Linked DNA regions of Homo sapiens: region 1 is linked to region 2. The links come from fine-mapping of genetic effects on gene expression. A gene starts in region 2. The other region holds a variant in brackets. All regions are shown on one strand. Distances are from middle to middle. Region 1 overlaps PRKCH (protein kinase C eta). Region 2 holds the start of HIF1A (hypoxia inducible factor 1 subunit alpha).

Evidence for each region. PIP is the estimated chance that this variant, and not a neighbour inherited with it, causes the effect.
Region 1: its variant is fine-mapped to the expression of HIF1A in whole blood (TOPMed, PIP above 0.99).

Annotation. Positions count from the first base shown.
Region 1 is chr14:61,471,919-61,480,392 of GRCh38, reverse strand. All of the region lies in intron 9 of PRKCH (protein kinase C eta), which reads right to left. Among named protein-coding and RNA genes, the nearest start is that of PRKCH-AS2, 69 kb to the left of the region's middle. RefSeq lists enhancers at 669-838, 1,436-1,605, 2,683-2,742, 3,376-3,455, 3,566-3,665 and a cis regulatory region at 1,520. The variant A/G (reference allele first, on the strand shown) is at 3,363.
Region 2 is chr14:61,691,788-61,700,261 of GRCh38, reverse strand. HIF1A (hypoxia inducible factor 1 subunit alpha) reads right to left here and starts at 4,749. Exons shown (of 15, transcript NM_001530.4): 1 at 4,423-4,749. The coding sequence starts at 4,457. HIF1A-AS1 (HIF1A antisense RNA 1) reads left to right here and starts at 4,439. Exons shown (of 2, transcript NR_047116.1): 1 at 4,439-4,555. RefSeq lists silencers at 4,291-4,390, 4,691-4,990 and an enhancer at 5,061-5,430.

The DNA.
Region 1 (8,474 bases), 220 kb after region 2:
ATTAGTATCACTGATGACTCAACAAACACCAAATCATGCTTCACAAATTCAATTGTGAAGCAACTAGGTGAAGCATTTTTTGGAAATCCTGCATTTAGGGAAGTACTGGAAGATGGATTATGGTTGTAGTGAGTCACTCCTATGGCAGAGAGGGGTTTCCCAAATCCCACTCTAGACAGAGATGGCAAAGATGACTGTTTCTGTATTTAAACCTGTGCATAGAACCATTTTGGTTTTTCTAAAGTCCATTTTCCTAGAAACTGAGCCTGCACATCTGTACAGCTTTACCTGAGGCTTTTGGCTTCTGTCAGGTGAAGTCTGCCCTGACCTGTGTGGTAGGAAATCTCAAGGCCAGGAGACCGGTTTAACATCACTTCTAAAGCCAAGTGGCTAAGCCCTTTGTCCCTGCTCCTCTCTTTTGTCCCTGATTCAGCCAACCACAAGTACAAGTCATTAACATGGGGTGATGAACACCGGTGGGAGTGAAAGCAACTCAGAAATCCCTTTGTCCCACACCTGGTGTGAGTTACAGGTGTGGGAGGCAGAGGAGCTGCTGCCTGGTGATAATAGAATTCCTGTCGTCACTTGCTCTGATGCCACTGACCTGCTGCAGTCTGGGTCCACTCTCTGCCCTGGCTATCAGTTCAGAACTATTCCTTCCCCAGGCCCAAGGGGCTAAAAATATCCCCCGAATAATGGCTGTCAGTATAAGTAAGGTGCATTCCCTAAGGCCCCCTCATTAAGGGCTGTTCGATAGGAGTTAAAGCTGATGGGCAATTTGTATGAACAAGAGACATAACATCCGGGTGGATGAAAGTGCTATGCCAGGATGGTACCAGTGACAAGATGATACTAACTAAGGAAAGTGACTGGAGAGCGAGCATGGACCAGGCAGGGCAAGATCCTGTAAGGTCACTGGGGCAAACATCTTTGGAGGCATCTGCTCAGCTCATGGTGATCCCTTCCTCAGCATTTACCCATGCTCCAGCCTGGCCGCATGGGTAAACGCTCAGCATCTGTGCACAGCCAGTTAGATCAAGCTGCACCTGCTCAGAGTCTCTTTTCCAGAAAACTGAAACTGAGGTAAAAAGCTTTTAATTTAGTCTAGGCTGTGTGCAGGAACTGAGGAAACATGAGTTAGGAAACGGAAACTGCTTTTGCAGTGTAAACGTGGGAAATGCCTGGGTATAAGAGAGTGGAGAAAGACTGGGTGGGTGGATGGACAGGTGGGTGGGTGAAGGAGAAGAATGAAGCAGAAACATAGAGTGAGGCAGAGACAAGAGATCAGGGAGGGTGAGTGAGCCAAGAGCAAAACTGCCAGGGTTCCTCATGTCTTTCTGGTTTCAGATCAGCCGAGAGAGCTGGCCAACTCCTGCCCTTGGGTTGCATGAGACATCCGTTGTACCTCTGAATCTTTATTTTTAGTTCTTTTTTTTGCATAGCCTTAAGAAAGTTTTCTTACTACCTGAAGTAAATTTTCTGCTACCAGGAGAATTTCAGCTAAAATACACACAATTTTTGTTTTTCTTTTTGAGACAGGGTCTTGCTCTGTCACCCAGGCTGGAGGGCAGTGGCAGGATCATGGCTCACTGCAGCGCTGAACTTCTGGGCTTAAGTGATCCTTCCAACCTCAGCCTCCTGTGCGGCTGGGACCACAGGTTTGTGCCACCACATCTGGCTAATTTTTTGTATAGACTGGGTATCTTTGTGTTGCACAGGCTGGTCTTGAACTCCTAGGCTCAAGCAATCCTACCTCGGCCTCCCAAAGTGCTGGGATTACAGGCGTGAGCAACCATGCATGGCACACACACCCATTTTTAAGGGGTAAGAAGTTTCCTTATTTATTTATAAATCTGGGATAATAACATCTATAACTACAGTGATCATGTAAAGATTAAACCAGAAGCCAAGTGCCTCATACAGTGCCAAGCCCAGAAAAGAATCTCAATCAATAGAAGCTATTGGTACCACTACATTATATAAAGAGGAGATTTTGTGCCCAGTGCCCAAGTCCCTGGTATGACTAAGAGGAAGCCCAGGGCAGTGGCGACACCTGGGCTCTGGGCCAGGATGCTTGAGGTCCAAGAGCAACTCCTGCTGTGCTGTATTTAGCTTCTCTCTCACAAAACTCACTTCTGCAAAATGGGGATAATAAGACAACCCAACTCACAGGTTTGTGAGGATTAAATGATTTAAGCTAAGGGCTTTGAATAGTGTCTGGCATACCATAAGTGAAATGCTCAAGAAATGTTAGCAACTATTATTATCCTCATCATCATGAGTGCATCCACTGCAGCTTCAGCCGCCATGGCCGTCTGCTCCCAGGGCTCCAAAGGGCCTGATGCATGAGGCATAGGAAGGCCCCTTGGCTGTGGCTGTGGCACACGTGGCAGTGAGCTGCATGCACTGGGTCTCGAGGCCTCCTTCACAGACCTCCAAGACTGGCGGAGGTACACACACACTCACAAGTGGACAGGAATGAAACAGCAGCCGAAACAGCAACTGCAGCAGCTCCCCCAACCCTCAGTGTGGGACAAGGGTATAGAGGGTCGAAGGAGGTGGAAGGAGTCCTAGCCCAGCTGTTGGGACACAGGGATGTTTCCCGATGCTATATGGTAATGGCCTTGACCGGGTAAGGACTTTTCTTTCTGGGAAATGCTTGCTAAGCAAGGGGTTACAAAACTAGATTTGATAACCAAAACATACTAACAAAGGTTTCAGTTCTGATAAGTTTTCTAACACTGACTGGTAATTCATATTTTCTATTTTAGGGGCTTTATAATAATTATTATTGCAAAACAAATGCCCTCCTTATGTACTAAAAACATATTACTGTAAGCGAGACTTTTTATAGCAGTTATTCTTCCTTTCTATAAAGTTGATTCAATCTCAGAACCAGATTGCAAAGATTTGTCTCCATTTAAAGAAAAAATCTGTTGTCTCTATGATTTAAAGACTGCATTTGAAGATGTATCATTCCAGAAACCAAGGCAGTAGGAAATAGCCACCATACTCAGAATTATAGTGAGGATGCAGATTACCTTTTGGAAATAATTCAAAGATAGACATAACACGTAAAAGTTATGAAAAATGTAGCTATTGCTTTAAGGCAATGTTAAGCTGGGAGCCACATCTATTCTTACTTACCCAAGTTCTAAGAACTGCCTTGGAGTATTTCTACATGAATAACAAGCTCATGCTGTATGAAAAGCTGCAGAGTGCTATTGACGGCTGGGGGAAAGGAGAAGGAAATCTCCGTAACAGATAGCAGTGTTGAACTTCTCCTAAGTACCGTTGCTTTATTATTTTTCTCAGACAAAGTCATCTACAGGGTGAGCAGGGAGTTCAAATAAACAGGAAAC[A/G]GTTACTGACGTCAAAGAGGTCACAGTGGAAAAGCACCCGCATGAGGAAATCTGATTGCACCATGTCTGAACTGGAAATAACTTGAATTTAACCACATTAAGAAAGATTACAAAGGCTTCAAGGAAGAAACAATGAGAAGGAGTCTAATGGCTGCATTTTTTTTTTGAACTTATCATTTTGCACAGCCCAGAAGATGTCAGAGGTTAATTCAATCACCCAGCAACCCCTGTGTCAAGCCCACAGGCAAGATACATCCTGTCTGAGCTGAGACTAGTCTTTGGGAAGGTGAAATATGTCCTGAATATAACAAAGCCTTAGGACTTTGCATTTCAAACCTAGAGGGACACACAGCTCTTTTCAAAGACCAAGTGTTTTCCTAGTAATCTGGATGCATTATAGCCATCTCTCATAATGAAACCTGACAAGGCTTACTGGCATATATACAGTAGACCAGGGAAACAAAGAGGAAATCTACCTTGCAGTTTAACACACTGTGAAACATCCAGGCCAGGATGTTCTTTAAAGCATAAATAAGTGGTAACATATGATCAGGGGTACAGCAGAGTCAGAGCACAAGTCCCCTCTTCCTGATGGAACCTCCTTTGGCATTTCTGGTCCACATACAGCTTTCCAGTATCATTGTGTAGGGCTGGGATGGATCTGTGCACTTGGTCTTCTTTTCCATGGGGGACCGGAAACCCTTGAAGGCAGAGCCCAGATACTAAGTGAGATATCTTTAATAGCACCAAGCACAGTGCCTGGCCAATTGTGAGGGTTAATAAATGCTTCAAGAGTGAACATAATAGGAACCATTTTTGTCTCCTGGTAAAATTTAAAATGGAACTTTAGAAGAGCTGGAACAAACTGCCAAGATTCGTTTCACCCAACCATTTTACAGAAGCAAAGGGCAAAGAAGTGAAGTACCTTGCCCATAGTTAAAACAGTTTGTGGAAGAGTTAAGTAGGACAATCAGGTCTGCTGATGCTATATTTTCCTTTATAAAGCTTTGATTTTTCTATTTATAAAACTAATTACATATCCATAGTTCAAATGTAATTACAAAGTAAATAGATAGAAAATTGAGAAGAAAATAAAGAAAATTCAAATAAAATCACCCTAATCCTGACAACCAGATATAGAAGTCTCAAGCTTTTAGCTTCCAAAGAACTGGAGATTTCAGGGCAAATAAGAAGTTTTCAAGGTAATGTTAACTAGATTTAATTTTTCCTTTGTGTCCTAATTATACTTAACATTTTATAGCATGTTTTAAAAACAGAAAGGAAAAAGTAAAAAACATACACTTCTCTTTTCATTTATATTGCATATTATTTCCTGATATAATTAGTCATCAAGACCATGATTTTTTTAACAGTTGCATGCTATTCCCGATGCCAGTTCTATGAAGTCCTACAATTAGCTTGACTTCTAATTAGGTTAATGAAAATAAAAGGACACAGCTTTTATAGTCTCTATGCCATGATAAAGATCATTTTTTTAGCCTGGTAAAGCAGGCATCTCTCAGTGGAGATGATTGCTAACTGGGCACGGTGTTTTAATTGATTGGTCAATCATTTAGACATCACTAACCTTTAGAGCACCCCCTAGTGGTCGAGAAGAACGTTTGAACAAACCTCCTAGTCAAAAACTATCCACATTTGAAATACACTAAAACTTAAGAGTCACAAAGAAGATATCTTGGATGATTATCTACTTTTTAAAAAAGGTTTAGCAACTTAACAAAAGCATCCACAATAGGATTTCTTCAAGTCATTATTTCACATAGTGAAATTCTCTTTATAAAGCTTTTGGTTTAAGCATCAAATAGGATATTTATGGACTTAGTTTGTATAGGGCTTGTAGGATAAAGAGTAAAAATACCATTTCATTTATTTAGATCATTTTTCATGATGGAGATCCCTAAACTGTGTAAACTTTTAAGACAACCACAATTTCATTTCTCCCTCTGATCTATGTATGAATTCGACACTTATGCCATGTGGGAAGATATTTTGGGTTATAGTTGATTAGACACTTTGCCCAGTTAGAGAAGTAGAGACTATGGCCAAGAATATGCCATATCTGCCTCAAGGTGATGCCTGGGAATCTACTGGCTGAGAATTCATTTCCTCTCCCCCTGTCTGCAGTGCTGATGCACGGGCCGAAGTTTCTGTGTGGAATGTGCCTTTCACATGCTATTCTGAGTTTGATTCCTCCACTGTAGCCATGACAAACTCTTCTCTGGTCCTCTGGCTGGGGAACAAAATCTGTTCAAGCAAATGACATGCCCACAATTTCTTCCCAAACTATTAAAAAATTTTTTTAAAATTATACTTTAAGTTCTAGGGTACATGTGCACAACGTGCAGGTTTGTTACATAGGTATATATGTGCCATGTTGGTTTGCTGTACCCATCAACTCGTCATTTACATTAGGTATTTCTCCTAATGCTATCCCTCCCCCAGCCCCCCATCCCCTGCCAGGCCCCAGTGTGTGATGTTTCCCACCCTGTGTCCATGTGTTCAACTCCCACCTATGAGTGAGAACATGCAGTGTTCCCAAACCATTTTTGCAATCTGGGTTACATATTGATCTCCACTGTCAATTAAGGAAGAAAGTTGCAGACCTTACTCTAAAGGTATGGAGGCTAAATTAAAAGAGGTGGAGCTCTAACAGGAAGGGGAACAGTCATCAGAAACAGCTTAAAAGGTTTATATGGGAGAAAGCACATTGTGTTAACTTTGAAGGCAAGCTTCAGTTGGCTAAGTGGAGTTCAGACAGGTTCTTAAAACCCCAAAAATGAGCAGATCCTAAGATGGTGACACCAAGAACCTCATGCCGTATCCAATAGAACTCTGAGTCTGTTAGTGAACTGACTTCATCTCAGCACTTGATTTATCCTACTATGAAACCACTTCCTTCTGATTCTTCTTCTTTTTTCCACTCAACCTTAACCCTTACTTAGAATTCCTTCTTCAAGTCTCCTCTCTTCTCTCTCTATAAACATCTACTAAAAGATTTTTGATTTTTTTTTTTTTTAAGACAGAGTCTCGCTCTGTTGCCCAGGCTGGAGTGCAATGGCGTGATCTTGGTTCACTGCAACCTTTGCCTCCCGGGTGCAAGCGATTCTCCCTGCCTCAACCTCCTGAGTAGCTGGGATTACAGGTGCGTGCCACCATGCCCGGCTAATTTTTGTATTTTTAGTAGAGACAGGGTTTTGCCATGTTGGCCAGGCTGGTCTCGAACTCCTGACCTCAGGTGATCCACTCACCTTGGCCTCCCAAAGTGCTGGGATTACAGGTGTGAGCCACTGCACCTGGCCTGAAAGATTTTATATTATAGTTTCCACTTACCAAGAGGACATGGATGACACCAAACTGATCTCCCATCTCAAGTGTGTTTCTGACAAACAAGCATCTTACCACTGAATTTCCCCCAAACCGAACTCATGCTATTCCATTCTCTTTAGGCTTCCAAATGGCCAGAGCCCTGGCCATTCCCACTTAAAAAGTCCTATCATGTCTACTTCTTTAGTGTTTCCTTGACTCCACTCCCATGATTGCTGCCTTGGGGCAGGCAAGTTCCCAGATCACGGGCCCAGCATCCTCACCAGATCTGCTGCCATTAGCCTCCCTCTGTACATAGCAGCCAGAGAGAGCCTTCTAACATGCAAATCTTATGTTACTCCCTCACTTAAAGATTTTGCTGGCTCCTTTTACCTAAACAGTTTAGTCTAAGCTCCTCAGCAAAGGACATCAGACCCATTATGACTTTGCTTCTTCATCACCACCCCCCTACCCCCGCCGCCAACCACCACCATTTCCCTTCTTACAAATCTGCCTCATCTAGTCATTTGGGGTTTCCTGGGCACATCCTGCAATTTTAAGCCTCTGTGCCTTTGCACTGCTGTTACCTCTGTCTGGGAGTCTATGCCCTCCTCTTGTGACTATAAGATCCCTATTCATCTTCAAAACACAGCTCACACAGCCCCTCCTCTGGGAAGTCCTTCCAACCTCCACGAGGATCAATCATGACTTTCTTCTCTCCATCACATGGTGTTATCATGACCTTTGACTGTAAGCAATTAAAAGGCAGGTCCACATTTTGTTCTTGTGTCTTCATCCCTGGCACATAATGCATGCTCCATAAACATTTACAGAATTGAATTTAAAATGCAAGATAAGTACACTAATACCATTCATTATATTACAGAAACAGGTAATGTCTCTTTTGGCTAGGGTCTACTTTCAATATTTAGAGACTATTCAGCCTTAAGATAGCATTTAAGGTTCTACTTTTTGTTTTGTTGTTTTTTTTGTGTGTGGGTTTTTAAAAAATTGAGACAGGAGTCTCACTTTGTCATCCAGGCTGGAATGCAGTGGTGCAGTCCCAGTTCGCTAATGCAGCCTCAACCTCCCGGGCTCAAGCAATCCTCTGGTAAGGTATCCACATTTCAAGTTGAAATGGCATTTCCATGTATGGGAAACAAAAGAAAAAAAGCCAGCAAGTGGCTCTCCCTCAAAGCCCAATCATATTGCTATCAGCACGTTTTCCCATGCTGGTTGGGAAACATTTTGCAAAACTCTGATTATCTGTTTGTACAATCCAACCACATGTACCACACACAGGATGGGAATCTGACTCACAAAGTTCAGGTTTGGGAGGATGCTTTTCATAAAATGCCACTGACTCAATGCCTTGCTGGTAAAGTGAAAGTGTAATTATTAAATGCTAAAACAAGACAAGCTGCAGTATTTGTACTGCTTGCTTTTTAAAAATAACCCATTTTAGATATATGCTCAGTCAGCTAATCTTTTGCTCCCTGGATGCCCCCAGGCTCTGATAATAATGCCTTATCGAGCAGCAGGCTTCACTGTTGAGAGCTGCCAGCAGCATGCCAGCCCTCACTCACATTAAACAGACGCTGCACGCTTCCGCTGTCTCCCCCGAGCTCAGGGGCTCCATCCCTAACAATGCCACTGTCAGTGCAGGCACCAACAGCTGTAATGAGCCCCCAACAGGAACTTTGCCTTTCTACAAACTCAGAAAAAAAATAACGCTTATATTTTCATAAAGAAGGTCTGACACATTTGGCTTTGGCTTCTATAAAAAGA
Region 2 (8,474 bases):
AAAAGTTCTGGAAGTTAGTGGCACAATGTGAATATACTTAACACTACTGAACAGTACTTAGAAATGGTTAAGATGGTAAATTTTAGGTTAATGTTTTTGAACTACGATTTTAAAAAACAATCAAAAGCTATAAGAAAAAAGCCATGAGGTAATCACATTTTTGTTTTTATGAAACAAAAATTTTAAATTTTGTTTTAAAAATTCAGGTTTTAGATACTAGATTTCTCTAAAGGGATCATGTCTGGCAAATAAATAAGGGTTTATAAATTTCTACTGCAGAAAACATGAACATTAATACTCAACGCATATACAAAACAGTTAATTCTTGATGTGTCAAGAGACCAAGAGATATAATTATTTTTAAAATTCCAAAGCCTATAGTTAATTTAAACAATCTGACCATATTTTTACCAAAAATACTGAGCAACAAGAAGCTTGGCTTGTCTTAGTTTCAAATTCTCTTTCTAACCTTCCAGAGTTAAGCAGAAAACACATACACACACTGGGTAAAATCCACCCACTGGATAACTAGTCACAAAGTTTAAAAAATCAATTTCTTGATTGGAAACTCATCCAACATCACATTTAAATTTAGATTTTTTTATCCTGGTTAAGAAACAGACTTATGTTAATCTTAGATAAAGGGATACAGTATTTTAAGTATCTAAATTTAAAAAATTATATACTAAGAGAAGGCATCTATGAACACACAATTTAACCCAAATCTTTAACATCCATGCACATCAATTTTTATTTCACCACCAAACATAATAAACTGAGTTCTTCAGAAAAAAAAAAAAAATCAGTCAAGAGACTAAATAATCCCCCTCAGCTTTCTATACACCACTCTTGACATACAAGAATAGAATGTAACCACAAAATCTAAACCCTGAGCCGTGACACCATTAGAGTCACAGACAATGGCGTTAAAAGTAAAGACAATGGAAGTTAACAGGTAGAAAAGTTGACATTCTCCAAACTGCACAAGGTGCTCTGCAGTGGACCGTAGGAATGAACTCCAATACTTTCTCAGTCTAAAATAACTCGATAGTTCAGTAAATACACACGTGTGGAAGAGTGCATAGACTTCATACAAATTGAGCCACAAAACAGACCAGTAAGACAAGCTTGAAGTCTTGCCTTCAGATGGAACCCAATGGTCTTAACTCTGGAGAAACTCATAAGCAAAGGACAGTTTTTCTACCACGTAGCTGCTTTACTGAGAATATTTTATCAACTCATTATCTTTTACAAAGGTTAATTTTTATAAAATTGTCTAAACTTTGGCATCAAGACGAAAAATGTTTTAACTTACTGCCAGTACTAAGAATGCAGTGTCTTGCACATATCTTGCTTAAATGAACAGTAAGACTAGAATACTGTGTATGTTTGACTCTAGAGTCCAGAGTAAACTCAGTATTCTATTTGGGGAGAAAACACAGGGGTGAGCAATTGTGAAGCAGGAGGCCTCCACTAGAGTAGAGAGCAGATCAGATGCTCAAGAAAAATAACTGATACTAGGTGCCAATATAACCCAAGGATGTACTCTTTTGCCCATTGTAACAGGAAAAAAACGCTTTTCAAGCTCTGGATCCAATGTTAGTCTTTTCACTTTCAGGAGATAGAAAAGATGCATGAAGACACAGAAAAGAAACTAAAGGAAACAGCTGGAAGGACTAGCAAAAAAGAGTTTTAAGAGTTGTGGAAGTTTAAACAAGAATTTTAACAGGTAACATCTATTTTCAAGTACACAGTGTCATCAAGACTCCTGCAATGGGCTAAGTGCTTCACAAGCATTATCTCATTTAACCTTTACAATAACTGCTCAGATGGCTGCTATTCTTATCATCATTTCAAAAGGAGGAAAGAGGCTCAGAGGCATTCAGTAACTTGCTCAAGCTCACAAGTGAAGGGCTGGGACCCTTAACTCAGAGGTATCTGCCTCTAGATCCTATGCTCTTAACCACCATATGCTGCTTCCTCAAACAAAAGGACAATCAAAATAGAATCATAAGGAGAAAAGTTTGCTAATAAATGAGAGAGCTTCTTGACTTTTAATGGCCAAAGTTAATGAAGGAAATTAAGGAATATCTATTCTCAGAAATTTTACTTTAATGATTCAGTAATTATTTGTTTTGGAAAACTCTGAAGGAGTCTGGCCTGAAGCCTGAAACAGAATCATTACTCTCTTGACATTCCCTTAAAAATCTAAAAATCAAAATGCACGTGCTATTAAATAAGTTCAGCCCCTATAACTAGGAACAACATGAAATGTCCTGCGTTAAATCTACAGTATCATAACCATACCCATTTTCTATTCTGATTTCTTCCAATTCTTCAGGTTTTGAGTTTCCTAGACCTTCTTTTAAAAAGACAAATTTGTTTTCCAAACTCCGACATTGGGAGCTCATTTAAAATGAAAAAAAAAATTGCTTGAAGAAAATCTCCGTCCCTCAACCTCTCAGTTATCTTTCAAAAAACTGTAAATTAGTTAGAAAAGGTCATCTATTATAAACAGCATCTAAAAGTGCTGAGTAACCACCACTTATTAAGTGTTTAACTTAATTTTTCAGTTATATCAAGAACTTCTATACTAAGAAATATGAATCCATCCAATCCAAGGTTGCCAAGTTTTCAAATGAGAAAATTTTGAAAGTAACAGATGGGCTGAGGAAAATCTAAGAGCTTATTTAGAATTGGGGCTGATGAACAGTAGCTAATTTATTAATTCGTTTCAAAACTGCTTCTGATATTCTGAACGGATGAATGGCAAAACAATGAGTTCGATACTGTATATAAAAAAAGTGGTACATAATTTAATGCATTGTATTAAGTATGATTCAATATATAATAAGGATAGAAAACTGGCACTACACAGAGGTAATCTGCCTTAGGTTTACAATATAGCAGCTTTATCATTTCATCAAAAGCACTGTAATCACCTCCGCAAAATAAACTGCAATTAATTCCTGGTAACTCTTGGAATTAATCTAGACCTGTTTGCTCACTTTTTGAATTTTATAAGTGACCTTCTCTGCTGTATACAAACTAAGAATTTAATATTCTATTGAAGAAGGACCAGGAGAAGGGATCTACAAAACAGCAGGAATATAAACAAGTTTATCTTCTGCTGATACTGATTAGGGAAATTAATCTCTCTGCCAGAAGAGTGGAAGGATTTAACAGCAAAGCCAGTCTACTAACCAAAACTCTTACTCTAAATCTTCAATTCCTTAAGTGATTTCCTTAAAAGTTAAAATGCCAAAGTGGGCAAAATTGTGTGTGTGTTGGGGGATGGGGGAGTCCGCTCTTAACACCACTGGTCCAACTCACAATTCTTAATCTCTAATGTACCCCTTAGACTCAAACTTCAAGGTGATTTATAAAACTTGCATTAAGTTCTAACCGAGTGATTACTTACTTTAGATATATGTTGACGGTTTTCCTTTAATATACTTCAATTTCAGGAAAATGAGACAGAGTTCGAAAATTTTTGCAACATTTTAGTGCCGCATTTCATTCACTCATCATATACTTTTTTCAGTATCATTAAAACTGCCTAAATTTAACCAGCCCCTACATTTTCATTATTTGAAGAATGAATGAGGCATATATTCATTTATAATATCTGCGTTCTCGTGACAGGTGATATGAACTCAAGTATCCAATTCTGAAGTTCTCTTTAAAATGTTGCCATTTCCCTAAATTCCCATTACTCTGACTCTCAGTCTAGGCAAGTTTTTCAAGGCGATTAAAACGAAACAAAACCTGCACGTGCAAACTAAAAAGTTCGCATCTTAAGGCCATCGCGGCAAATCCCTAATGCACAAAGGCAAAGACACCCGCGACGGCTGGACAACTACAGGACAAGATCGCATCCGACCACGCGAGTCCCTCAGTCGGGAACTCAAGGCCCCAAGTCCACTGGAAAGCCAGGACCAGCGTGCAGGGTCCGCCCCAGGGCCGAGTTTTCAATGGAACTGGAGAGGATGGGGGCGGGAAGGAGCGGAAGCTCCGGGTGCAAACCGCGGCTACCGAGCTGCAGCTCATTTCTCTTCCCGGGGTTTTCAGGCTGGGTAAAGTCCCCTCCGGATGGGGCCACAGAGCAGGCTGGGTTTTTGAGGCGGGTAGGTGGGCGGCGCGAGGCCCCCACGGCCGGCGGGGAGGGCAAGCAGGGCTCAGACCCCGGCCCCTGAAAGCACTTTCGAGGCGTCTCCCACCCCCCACGACAAGATGGCGACGTGGACAGCGGGGGAGCCCGGCCGGCGAGGTTGGGGGAAGAGAGGGGAGGGGAGCAGCAGCAGAAACAAAAAGGCTGCCCCCCCCAATCCCATTAACGCCGAGGCCGGCCCAGGAGCCCAGGGCGGGCAGGCGGGCGGGGTCGCCGGGGGAGAAGGCGGCGGGCCGAGGGAATGGGCTTACTTTTTCTTGTCGTTCGCGCCGCCGGCGCCCTCCATGGTGAATCGGTCCCCGCGATGTCTTCACGGCGGGCGGCCCCCAGGCTCGCTCCGGCCTAAGCGCTGGCTCCCTCCACACGCGGAGAAGAGAAGGAAAGGCAAGTCCAGAGGTGGGGGTGCGAGGCGGGAAACCCCTCGTGAGACTAGAGAGAAGCGGGCGGCAATCGCCGGGGTCCGGGCCCGGCTCCGAGCCTCTCCTCAGGTGGCTTGTCAGGGCCCAGCCCGACACACTGGCCGAAGCGACGAAGAGGGTGATCCTCCTGTCCCCTCAGACGAGGCAGCACTGTGCACTGAGGAGCTGAGGCAGCGTCAGGGGGCGGGCAAGGGCGGAGGCGCGCTCGGGCGCGCGGGGAGGGGAGAGGGGGCGGGAGCGCGCCCGCTCGCCTGCCCAGGCCGGCGCGCGCTCCCGCAAGCCCGCCTCACCTGAGGTGGAGGCGGGTTCCTCGAGATCCAATGGCGAGCGACGCAGGCGGCAAGTCCCCACCCCAGCCCACGCCGCTCTCAGCCAATCAGGAGGCGGTCAGCTGAGGCACAGCTGGGACGGGCTGCGACGCTCACGTGCTCGTCTGTGTTTAGCGGCGGAGGAAAGAGAAAGGAGATGGGGGTGCGGCTCAGCCCGAGTCTGGGGACTCTGCGCCTTCTCCGAAGGAAGGCGGTGCCCGGCTTTGGGAGGCGCTGCTGAGAAGGGATTTCGGTTGCCTGGTCCCAAACATGCATCATATTTTCCTACTCTTGGTGCAGTAATGTAATGCTCCTGCTCTCTTTCTCCTCGGCCTCAGTGCTGGGCACGATTGCCGCCCAACTCTGCTGGGCTCTCTGTTCAAAAAAGCAGACTTCGCCTCGTGGCAGCAAGCCCTTCCTTTGGTCTCGTTGCTCAGATGTGTTACAACGGGGTCTTTCCTTACCAGATTACCTAACCATGGGTCAATGTCACCCACCGCACTCTTTGCCACGGAGCACAGGGGAACTCACCTTGTCTACTAAGTTTTTCTGTGGCGGAGTTTACTTACTGAATAAATGCAATTAAAAATAAAAATGAACTCCTGTTGCTGTAAACTTCAAGGGAAATAAAGTTGCAGGGAAATCTTAAAATCTGAAACTATGTTAAGCATTTGCAAATAGGTATAAATGACTTTAATAAGCATATAAACCAATTTCAGGGAAAGAGTAGAAAAAATGGCCTTTGGCAACTTTGCAAGCTACTAAACAAAACATAATCACTTTTGTCTTTGGAGGCATAAACTTCAAGCCTGTCAGTCTTCTAAAAGAAAAATATGTTTTGAGCCCAACAAAGTAGCATTGCACATATATCTCCACTTGGCGCTAAATTATTTTACTTCTCACCTTTGCCTTATGAGTTTCTTGTTAAAACCTAGCTTTGGGTTGTAAATATAAATATCTGTAGTGGCTTTCAATTGTATTAGCATGTAAAAACAATGGTCTATATAGAAGCATCAAACTCTGACAAGACAACAACCAATGTATACAGCACCTCTTTTTAACTGGTCAGTAGACCTACAAAGATACGATTAAACATTGACCTTAGCGGACAGGGTGGTTCCAGCTACTCAGAGGTGTGAGGCTGGAGAAGCCTGGGTGTTCCAGCCTAGGGAACGTAGCGAGACTCCGTCTCTTTAGAAAATTTTTGATCTTCACGCTACTTTTGTTTTTTCAGATCTACAACACTAAATGATATGTATTATGTCTTGAAAAGAACCATGGGAAATGCCTGAAGAGAAGAAAGAACTAAAAATAATTACTCATAATTTCTTTTTTAATTGTGGAAAGAATACTGTAAATTAAAAACTTTTTAGTTTAACATTCTCAAGATACTGTGTTAAGAACACTGGCTCCAGAATCAAGCGTGAGCTTGTACACAGGCTTTGAATCTTACTGGCAAGTCGTTTAATCTCTCCATAACTCAGTTTACTTATTTATAAAATGGATATAAAAGTGTCTATACCACAGTATTATGGATGGTTAAATGAGATAATAAATGTATACTTAGAACAATATCTGGTGCATAGTAAGCACTCAGTAAATGTTAGCTCTTAGTATTGTTGGTGGCGTTATTATTATTATCATTATTATTATTCTGAGGCGGAGTCTCGCTCTGGCCCACAGGCTGGAGCGCAGTGGCGCGATTTCGGCTCACTGCAACTCCGCCTCCCAGGTACAAGTGATTCTCCTGCCTCAGCCTCCCAAGTAGCTGGGATTACAGGCACGCACCACCACACTCGGATAATTTTTCTATTTTTAGTAGAGACGAGGTTTCACCATGTTGGCCAGGCTGCTCTCGAACTCCTGACCTCAGGTGGTCCGCTCGCCTCGGGTTCCCAAAGTGCTGGGATTACAGGCATGAGCCACAGTGCCTGGCCTATCATCATTATTATTGCCCTCAAATTTATTCCTCTGTTAACAGTAATTACTCGGGCTTCTCCTACAGTTTAGCCATTTTTAACTATCCAAGAATACCAATTATGTTAATATAAATCCACATATATTCTCTATTTTCAACTTTGGAACTGCCCATCGTGTTCCCACCCTCATTTATGAGGATAGCTGCAGAGATCTTCCATCATTTCCCTTTTCATTATACTTATAGCAATTATCTCTGGCCAGTGATTATAGTATATAATGTTTGTGACATCAAAAGACAAGCATTTTGTAACAGTAAATCTAAGTCATTTAAAATTTTTTTGGATCATTTCAAAAGTTTAAAGCAGAATGATAATTTGATCAGCAAAAAAATTTTTGAATATTCATTAAATATGCCCTTAAGTTAATTTTCCTTTTCAAAAATGTATAAAATATATGTTTATGTATATGTGTATACACAAATATAAATATGAAAATGGAAAGGAAAGTAGTATATGTGTATATATATATATGTCTATACAAATATAAATATGAACATGGAAAGCAGTAATATTCAACCAACTAATTTTCATATAGTTACAAAGGCACCAAATAGTATCCCCTAATTCAAACAATCCTATTAAATAACAGACACCAAAAAGGAAAATTTCATATAGGATAAAATTTTAAATCCCTCTCTCTACAACCACTTAACAAATGCATTTAGGTTATTACTATGTAAGTATATCTTAACAAACAGTCATTTAATCACTTTCTAACTTTGCAGAACTTTCTGAGTAGACTACAAGATTACTTGCAAATGACCCCATTGACCCTTAGCCCGTATTTATTAGGAAATTGGGCAGTGAATCAGGAGGTTAAGTAAAACTTGAAATTTTGATTACTACTAAATAATACAGAGCATTGAGCCTTTTGAAGGTGAAATGCATCAGATGCACACAATTTATAGGGTATCAAACTATACAAGAAGACCTAGTATTCAGTAAGTGATTCCTGGCCTATTACTACCCTTAGTTGTTTCTTTTTCTTTAAGCTATTCATAACGAGAACAATGGCAGCAAAAGGGTATTGTTTGGAAGGAAAGTGCGTACAAGATAAGAGGCATTAAAAATCTTTGTTTTTTCCTTTCAAGAATCAAGACACAAAGTATCTGTGATTCCAACATTTTGGGAGGCTGAGGCAGGAGGATCACTTGAGGCCAAGAGTTTGAGACCAGCCTGGGCAACAAAGTGAAACTCCCATCTCTACAAAAAATTTTAAAAATTAGCTGGGCTTGGTGGTTAGTGCCTGTAGTCGTAGCTACTCTGAAGGCTAAAGCGGGAGGATCACTTTCTCCCAGGAGTTCGAGGCTGCAGAGATGTACGATTGTGCCACTGCACTCCAGCCTTGACAGAGCAAGACCCTATATCTTAAAAAAAAACACAAAAAACAAACAACAACAAAACCCACACACACAGACACACAAAATAAAATGTATATTTATCTGAGTTTAGGGGGAATATAAACAGACTGAAAATTTGATATTAGCACTTTTCAATTATGATAAATATTTTTAAGATGAATTTACAAAGGAACACCAAGGGGCTTTCAGTTTCCTGTTCAACATGTAAAGAGCTTGGAAGTTGTCACTCCCATCCT